Linked DNA regions of Homo sapiens. Changing the gene in region 2 together with the main gene of any one other region gives a genetic interaction. Each region holds a gene or a part of one and is shown on either strand. Other genes may lie near its edges.

What was found.
Region 1: changes in MPRIP (region 2) and NF2 together harm fitness more than expected from each alone (negative genetic interaction), as found in Homo sapiens cells (one large-scale study listed by BioGRID).

Annotation. Positions count from the first base shown.
Region 1 is NC_000022.11:29,694,133-29,697,632, reverse strand, and holds part of NF2 (merlin), read right to left. Parts: intron 2,882-3,500; coding exon 2,831-2,881; coding exon of another isoform or gene 2,824-2,830; 3' UTR 1-2,823. UniProt on the Homo sapiens protein: Probable regulator of the Hippo/SWH (Sav/Wts/Hpo) signaling pathway, a signaling pathway that plays a pivotal role in tumor suppression by restricting proliferation and promoting apoptosis.
Region 2 is NC_000017.11:17,157,248-17,161,256, reverse strand, and holds part of MPRIP (myosin phosphatase Rho-interacting protein), read right to left. Parts: intron 2,826-4,009; coding exon 2,255-2,825; intron 18-2,254; coding exon 1-17. UniProt on the Homo sapiens protein: Targets myosin phosphatase to the actin cytoskeleton. Required for the regulation of the actin cytoskeleton by RhoA and ROCK1.

The DNA.
Region 1 (3,500 bases), on a different chromosome or scaffold from region 2:
ATCACGCCATTGCACTCCAGCCTGGGCGACAAAGGCAAAAACTCCGTCTCAAAAAAAAAAAAAAAAGGATGCAGTCATCCCAGCCACAGGAACCAGTCTGTGAAAACCAGGCATCTCTTTCTTTCTTTCTCCTGCTACTGGGGCTTGAGATGCTCCTGAGGCCCATCCTCCTCTCCACCTTCTCCATCTGTGGGGAGGCACCTCAGTATTCCTGCCTCAAGGAGGGGGAAGTGCTCCTGGCTGAGCAAGGTCCTGCAGTTCCCAGCCTGCTCCCTGGAGCCCCAGGTGCTTCTGCCACAGCTCAAACACCAGCCAGCTCCCTTGAGGCCGCGTGGCTTGGCACTTCCCAGACTTCAGAAGTAGACACGGCAGCTAAAGAAGGAAACAAAGCCCGACAGCGTTTTTATAAACCACCATATGCTCCCACCTGCAGCCATTGTTAAAGAACAAATTTACAGGTCAGGAGGAAAGTAACTCCTGGTGGAAATCCAGGGATGGGCTTCAAGACTGAGAAGAGACCGGGCATGGTGGCTCACGCCTATAATCCCAGAACTTTGGGAAGCCGGGGTGGGAGGATCACCTGAGGTCAGGAGTTCGAGACCAGTCTGGCTAACATGGCGAAACCCCATCTCTACTAAAAATACAAAAATTAGCCAGGCATGGTGGCACACGCCTGTAGTCCCAGCTACTCGGGAGGCTGAGGCAGGAGAATCTCTTGTACCTGGGAGGCGGAGGTTGCAGTGAGCTGAGATCGTGACACTGCACTCCAGCCTGGGCGACAGAGCGAGACTCCATCTCAAAAAAAAAACAGAAACAGAAACAGAAAAAAAAAAAAAACGGAGGAGGCAGAGCCAGACCTCACTTTACAAACGCCTGAAGCTTCCGCTCCTGGCTGGGTCACACTAGGAAGACACAGGGCCACAACATCCATACTTACGCTCTAGGTCTGGAGTCCCACCCTGTAGACCCTAAGTGGCTGGGTGGCACCCAGGGCTGGTTTCCTTGGGGCAAGGTGACCCAAGCAGTTGCCGAGCAGCCCAACCCCATTAGGTCAGCCTGATAGTAGGAAGAAGGCAGGATCTCTGTGCTCTGTGAGCTGCTAAGTTTCTCAAAACCAGATGGAATTGCCAGAGACCACCTCTGCTCTCCAAAAATCTTGAGGCCCCCATAGCCTCTATCTTTTATCTGATTAAGACAAATCACCTGCTTTGCATAACAGCCAAACTGGAAGGATCTCAAGGGCCCTGGCTGGCCACAGCAGCATCAGCCATGGAGAAAAGAAAGGGCAAGAAGGGGCTGGGTGCAGTGGCTCATGCCTGTAATCCCAGGTGTGAGTTTGAGACCAGCCTAGCTAACATGGCAAAACCCCGTCCCTATTAAAAATACAGAACATTGGCCAAGTGTGGTGGTGCATGCCTGTAGTCCCAGCTACTTGGGAGGCTGAGGCAGGAGAATTGCTTGAACTCAGGAGGTGGAGGTTGCAGTGAGCCGAGATTGTGCCACCACACTCCCACCTGGGTGACAGAGAGAGACTCCATCTCGGAAAAAAAAAAAAAAAAAAAAAAAGAAAGGGCAAGAAGGTGGCCCCAGACCAAGGAGTGAGCCGTGGGGGTGGTTCTGTGGCCCTCTGTTGCCTGGCATGGAGGTGGGTCCTGTGACAGCCTAGGTGAGCGCCACCTGTGAGTGGACACCTGCATCAGGCCTGTGCTGGGAGGGGCACAAAGGGCCCTGGCTGGCCCCCAGGGAACAGAAAATTCAGGGCCCGAAGAGGGACAAGGGCAACAGCAAAGTGAGGCCTGGGTACAACAGTGGGTTGGGAAGTGGGCTGTGGCCACTGGCACGTGGCTGGGAGGGAAGGTGAAGCAGATGGGCCGTGCAGACTGGGCCGGTGGAGCTCAGAGTCTGGGCCAGTGAGAAGCAGCACCTGTGGAGCCACAGGGCTTACAGATCCCTGGTCATAGCCGGGTTACGGGTGCTGACTGCAGTACGACCAGGGAGTACCCCAGCCCCACACAGGAAGGAGCGTCTATGGGCGTCGGGCAATGGGGAAGACATGAGTGGCTCCTGCCTGCCTCTCGGACCCTGGTCTAGGGTGGCCGGAGGGGGACAGCGAGTGCCCTGTACCATCAGCTCCCGCACGGCACTACCCAGCCCCTCGGCTGGCAGTCAGCCTGCATCACAGCTTCTGCCTAAAGTCTCTCCCCAGCCACAGCTGCCCTGCCTATTCCCCACCAGCTGCCAGCCAGAGCGCCGCCTCGGGGTGCCTGGCGGGGACCCAGCACTTGCTCGTCACGAGCTCTGGGCGGGCTCCCTGACGATGAGAAGCCGGCAGGCGTGCTGGCCTGGGATCCGCCGGGCTGGGCTGCTTCGCTGCATGCCAGGTCCTCACCGGTGGGGGAATGAATGTTCCGGAACCCTGGGCGGGGTGGGGATGATGGCACTGGCTTCTCAGGGCTTCAGTGTCTCACTCCCTACAATGACTTCCCAGGCTGGGCGGTGGAGGTCAGCTCTGGAGTGCAAGACACACACACACCGGTGCCTTGGACGAAGGGAGTCAGGAATCCCACATTAGACAAAGGAAGACAAATACTTCTTAAAACAAAGACTCAGGTCAGAGAACTAGAACGCCATGAGAGAAATCTCTACAGGGTCGTAGTTCAAGGCAATTGCACATAAGAGGGGCTGGGCTCTTCACTCAGCTGGGGAAAGTTCTGGAGCTCCCACGGAAACCCCCAGCCAGCTCCCTATGGATGGCTCTCTTGATATCTGGTCCATCCCGCGGTCCCGGTAGCAGGAGAAGTGGCAGGTCCTGGGGTGGCTGGGTCACCTGCTAGAGCTCTTCAAAGAAGGCCACTCGGGACTTGGCGCTCTGCAAGGTGAGCTGTAAGAAAGCAGAGAAGAAGCTGAGAGGGCACAAGACCTCCGCTCTGTCACACAGGGTCCTGTCCTGCCACTTGGACTCACCTCAAAGGTGGCTGGGAGCGAAAGGGAAGGCTGTTCAAATAGATGCTCAAGAAGTTGGCTGTCAGTCCCAAATAAGCGGCCAGATTTGCCCAATAATTCAAATTAGGAGGTGACAAATGAGGATGTGCAAGGGGAAGGCTGGTGGGCAGAGGCACGCCAGCAGGAAAAAGCCGTCAGCATTGCCTCTTGACAGAGGACCGGAGATCCCTGCCTATTTTAATAGATTCTCACATTCCCATCTACCAAGGTCCCTGAGCCACCTCTGTGGTGTGCTGTCTGTGGCGGCACCAGCTGAGGCTGCTCATCCCCTCCGGGCTTGGCAGGGCAAGCATCTTAGTCCTCATGCCCTGGCAACATGGCTGGGGTAAGGTGACGTGGCCTGAGGCAAGGCAGGCCTGTGGCAGATGAGGAAGAGTTTACCCCTTCTACTCCTGGTTTCCCAGGTGGTCCCGAAGCAAACTTGCTCATGACGTGGCAGCTGAGAAGGTGTTTCTCTCCATGAGCTGGAGGCAACGGCTTTCTCAGTGTGGCTTGTG
Region 2 (4,009 bases):
TTCTGGCTCTGCTCCAGCTGTTGGCAAAAAGACACACACTTTTATGCAAAATGACAATGATAAACAAAGCAGCTGCACAGCACAGACTCTTTCACTGGTCTTCCATGTGGCCCAAGAGTTTTGGAGTCTCCACATTTCAGCAGATGTGCTGATATGGCCTTTACCAGCAGCATTTGGAAGTGAAGGTTCCAATGCAAGCCATCAGTAACAATGGCAGACTTGGTACCTTATGGGCACCAAGGGACTACCTTGTCCTTCCCTACTCCAGGCACCCCTGGATGCCCACATACTTCCCACACCTGCTCAAGGTTCCAACATGCACGCCCTATATAGGTGCCAAGGCCCATACGGGGTGTTCATTTCTGAGAAGGGGAATGTGTCCACTGGGGAACAAGGGTTTTGCATCTGCATCTGGAGGAAGCACCCCATGGGGTCCTTTGGGTGTCCTCAGCTGGTCACACAGGCCAGGCTAGGCTCTACAGGGACCACTGTGAGTGGTGGCCCCAAGCAGGCCTCACTCCAGGGCCCACTATGGTCTCAACTGAAACCACTCCATTTGACCAGCTTTACATGATGGATTCCACAAAGTTCTGTTTGCAAAAAGAGTTCCCGCAGTTCCCTCAAACAAGGTGTGGATACCCATGAGTAAGCTATTTTACACTCTTCTTGCTTTCAACAGCTTCAGCTACTCATTCATCCATCCACCTCTTCCCTACACACCTCCCAGGTGCCTCCTGATGCCTGGCCATGTGCAGGGCTACCCAACCTGCTCCCAGAGCTCGTGCTGAATGGAGCTGTGTGTGTGGTGGACAGTCAGGCCAGTGCCGCCCAGGGTGCTGACAGACTGTGCTGTGAGAGGCGGGGAGACCCCTGACTTTTATTTATTTTTTTTGAGATGGACTCTCGCTCTGTCGCCAGGCTGGAGTACGATGGTGCGATCTCAGGTCACTGCAACCTCTGCCTCCTGGGTTCAAGTGATTCTCCTGCCTCAGCCTTCCAAGTAGCTGGGACTACAGGAATGCACCACCATGCCCAGCTAATTTTTGTATTTTTAGTAGAGACGGGGTTTCACCATGTTGGCCGGATGGTCTTGATCTCTTGACCTTGTGATCCGCCCGCCTCGGCCTCCCAAAGTACCGGGATTACAGGCGTGAGCCACCATGCCCAGCCGACCCCTGACTTTTAAACAGTGAAGACTGACCCCCCAGATTGTTGAGCCAGTGTGTCGCCTGCTGGCTGGCCCATTTTGGTAGCCTGAAGTAATGTGAGTTTCAACTGTTATTTTATTTCATCTTGCCTTTGTTACTTGTTAATGGATGAGGAAAATGAAAAAGTACAAGTATTAGTGCTGGTGGTAACTCAGCCTCATACAGTTAATAAAATACAAAAAAGATGAGAAGCTTGAGGCATACCCAAGTGGCAAATCTTTAACAAGCTACTTACGTAAGAGAACACATTTGAAACACAGTGTTGAAAACTGTCCCTAAATGGAGAGTGAAACAGGGAGTTCTACAAAAACTGTAACGCTACACCTCCCCAGCTACGAGACTCCCTGCCCAGACATGTCAATCTACCACTGAAGTTCTGCAGACTGGATTTCTGCATACATTTCCATGAAAGAACATCTTATTTTATAGTTCGGGGGCCAGCTTGTTCATCTATGTACCTAGGTGCACTGAAGGCCTCGTGGAGGAGTGACAGTCACAGGGCAGCCTTCATCCACAGCCTACCCTGCCTCACCACTGTCTTCTGCTTCATATCCTCATGACCTAGGACCCAGCTGTCATCTCCTGCTGGATGCCCCTGGCTTCAGATCTGATCGGCCGTCCCCAAGCCACTGTAAGAGCACCTGGGGCTGGTCTCTGCCTACAGCTTTGACCTGTCCAAGCCAGGGCTGCGTAATGCAAAAGCCTTGCCCTGCTCGCGCCCCTCCTGCCATCGGGAGTCAGAACGAGGAAACCATCTAGGCCCTGCAACGCCGCTTGCCTCTCAATGGCAGGGGCCCCCACCATCGGAAGAATTCCTCTGTGCCTGGAAGGCCCCTTTCCCTGCCCTGCATGCACTGGCACGCTCCCACAGCTCTCAGGTCTGCCTCAACTATGAGGACTCATCTATGCGTCTGTCTCCCCTAGGGGTCTGCAAGTCCCTCGCGGGTAGGACTGTCTAGATGAACCCCTCAGGCCACAGCTGGGCACAGCTGATGCTCTGGAAAGGCTGCTGGGAGCAGGGTGGGGATCTGGTCCCAGGCTATTACCTCCTTCTCGAGCAGAGAGGTCAGCTCGTGTGTGGAGAGCCGGTCACCCCCATCTTCAGAAGACAGGTGGACGGGGGCGATGGGCACCTGCTTCTCTTCCCGGAGAGGTGTGGTCTCCACCTGATGCCACCGCTGCTCAATCTCCACGTGGACGTTATGCGTTTTGAGGTCGCTCATAGGCAGCCCTGGGCTCCGGTCCACCTCCATGCGCAGGGCTGCATCCTCAGTGCCTGGCCCGTCTGTGGCGTCGAGCATCCCGAAGCGCTTGCGGCGCTCCTCCCGCCTCCGTGCACGCTCCCGCTCCAGCTCCCCAGGCTCCGCCTCAGGGCGCAGGGGCTCGTGGGTGTCAGCAGGCCCCACGCCGCCCACCCGCTCCTGAGCCAGGGCCTGCTGGATGGGACGGAACTCAGCCCAGTCAAAGGTCTTGGAGCGGCCCTCTCGCCTCCGCTCCCGTGCGCGGCTCCTCTTCTGCTCAGGGTCCGGCTCCCCCAGCTCTGCCTCTTGCTTCTCAGTAGGCCTCGGGCAGGTCTCAAAAGAGCAGCTGCTCTTGTTTTTTTCCTCTGGCAACGAGCTGTGGGGCAGGAGGATGGACATAGCCTGTCAGGGGCGGCTCTGGTGTGGCCTGCCAGGCAGAAGCTGGCAATGCTGAGCCACAACCCAGCCCCTGTGAGCACCACATCCTTTTTCTATCCTAATCCCAGCTTCCTAAGTGCAGGGAGGACAGGAATACTCTGCCTTTACCCCACATCCCTTCCCAAACTGGTTCTGAGTGGGGGAGGGGGAGGGGGACGGGGAGGGGAAGGGGAAAGGAAGGGAAAAGAGCCTCAGAAAGCTGAGGTTTCCCACATAATGACACTGGGGGGGTCCCTTGACTGAAGAGGCTGTGAGGGGCTCACTGTGGTGGTCCCGTTGCCAGGGTATGGAGCCAGGGGAGTCCCAGGACTCCCACAGCCTCAGAGGCAGGACGGGCCAGCCCTGCCTTGCTCAGGGCCAAGAACTACATTAGGCTGCACCTGGGCACAGCCACCGTACCTGCCAGGTGAGGCCTGGGCCCTGTGCACCCCTGGACTGGACAGTGGTGACAGAATGAGGGAAAACTAGCACTTTCTAGAAGGGCTTACCTTTTAATAAGCAGGTAACGTGATCAGATCTATGTTTTGTTTTTTTTTTTTTTGAGATGGAGTTTCACTCTTGTTACCCAGGCTGGAGTGCAATGGCGCGATCTCGGCTCACCACAACCTCTGCCTGCTGGGTTCAAGCGATTCTCCTGCCTCAGCCTCCCAAGTAGCTGGGATTACCGGCATGCGCTACCATGCCTGGCTAATTTTGTATTTTTAGTAGAAACGGGGTTTCTCCATGTTGGCCAGGCTGGTCTCAAACTCCTGACCTCAGGTGATCCGCCTGCCTCCCAAAGTGCTGGGATTACAGGCGTGAGCTACTGTGCCCAGCCTGAATCTATGTTTTAAAAGCCCAATCCAGCTGCTGGCATGACAGATGGATCAGTATGAAAGACTGGGACCTCCTAAGGGTGAGGGAAACAGGAGGCCCAGGTGGCCACGAGTTCACACCATGCAGTAGCCAGAGGCTTGGAGAGGAAGGCAGAAGGGGAGAAGGACACTGGGTTACCTGCCACCTTGAGCAGGCAAGCGGCAGCCAGCAACGGGACATGAGCTGCGCAGGTCGTGCTCATGGTGCTGCTACCTGCCCTGCAGTAAGTGGAGTGAAGCCAGGTCTGCCTGAGGAATCCATGTCTAG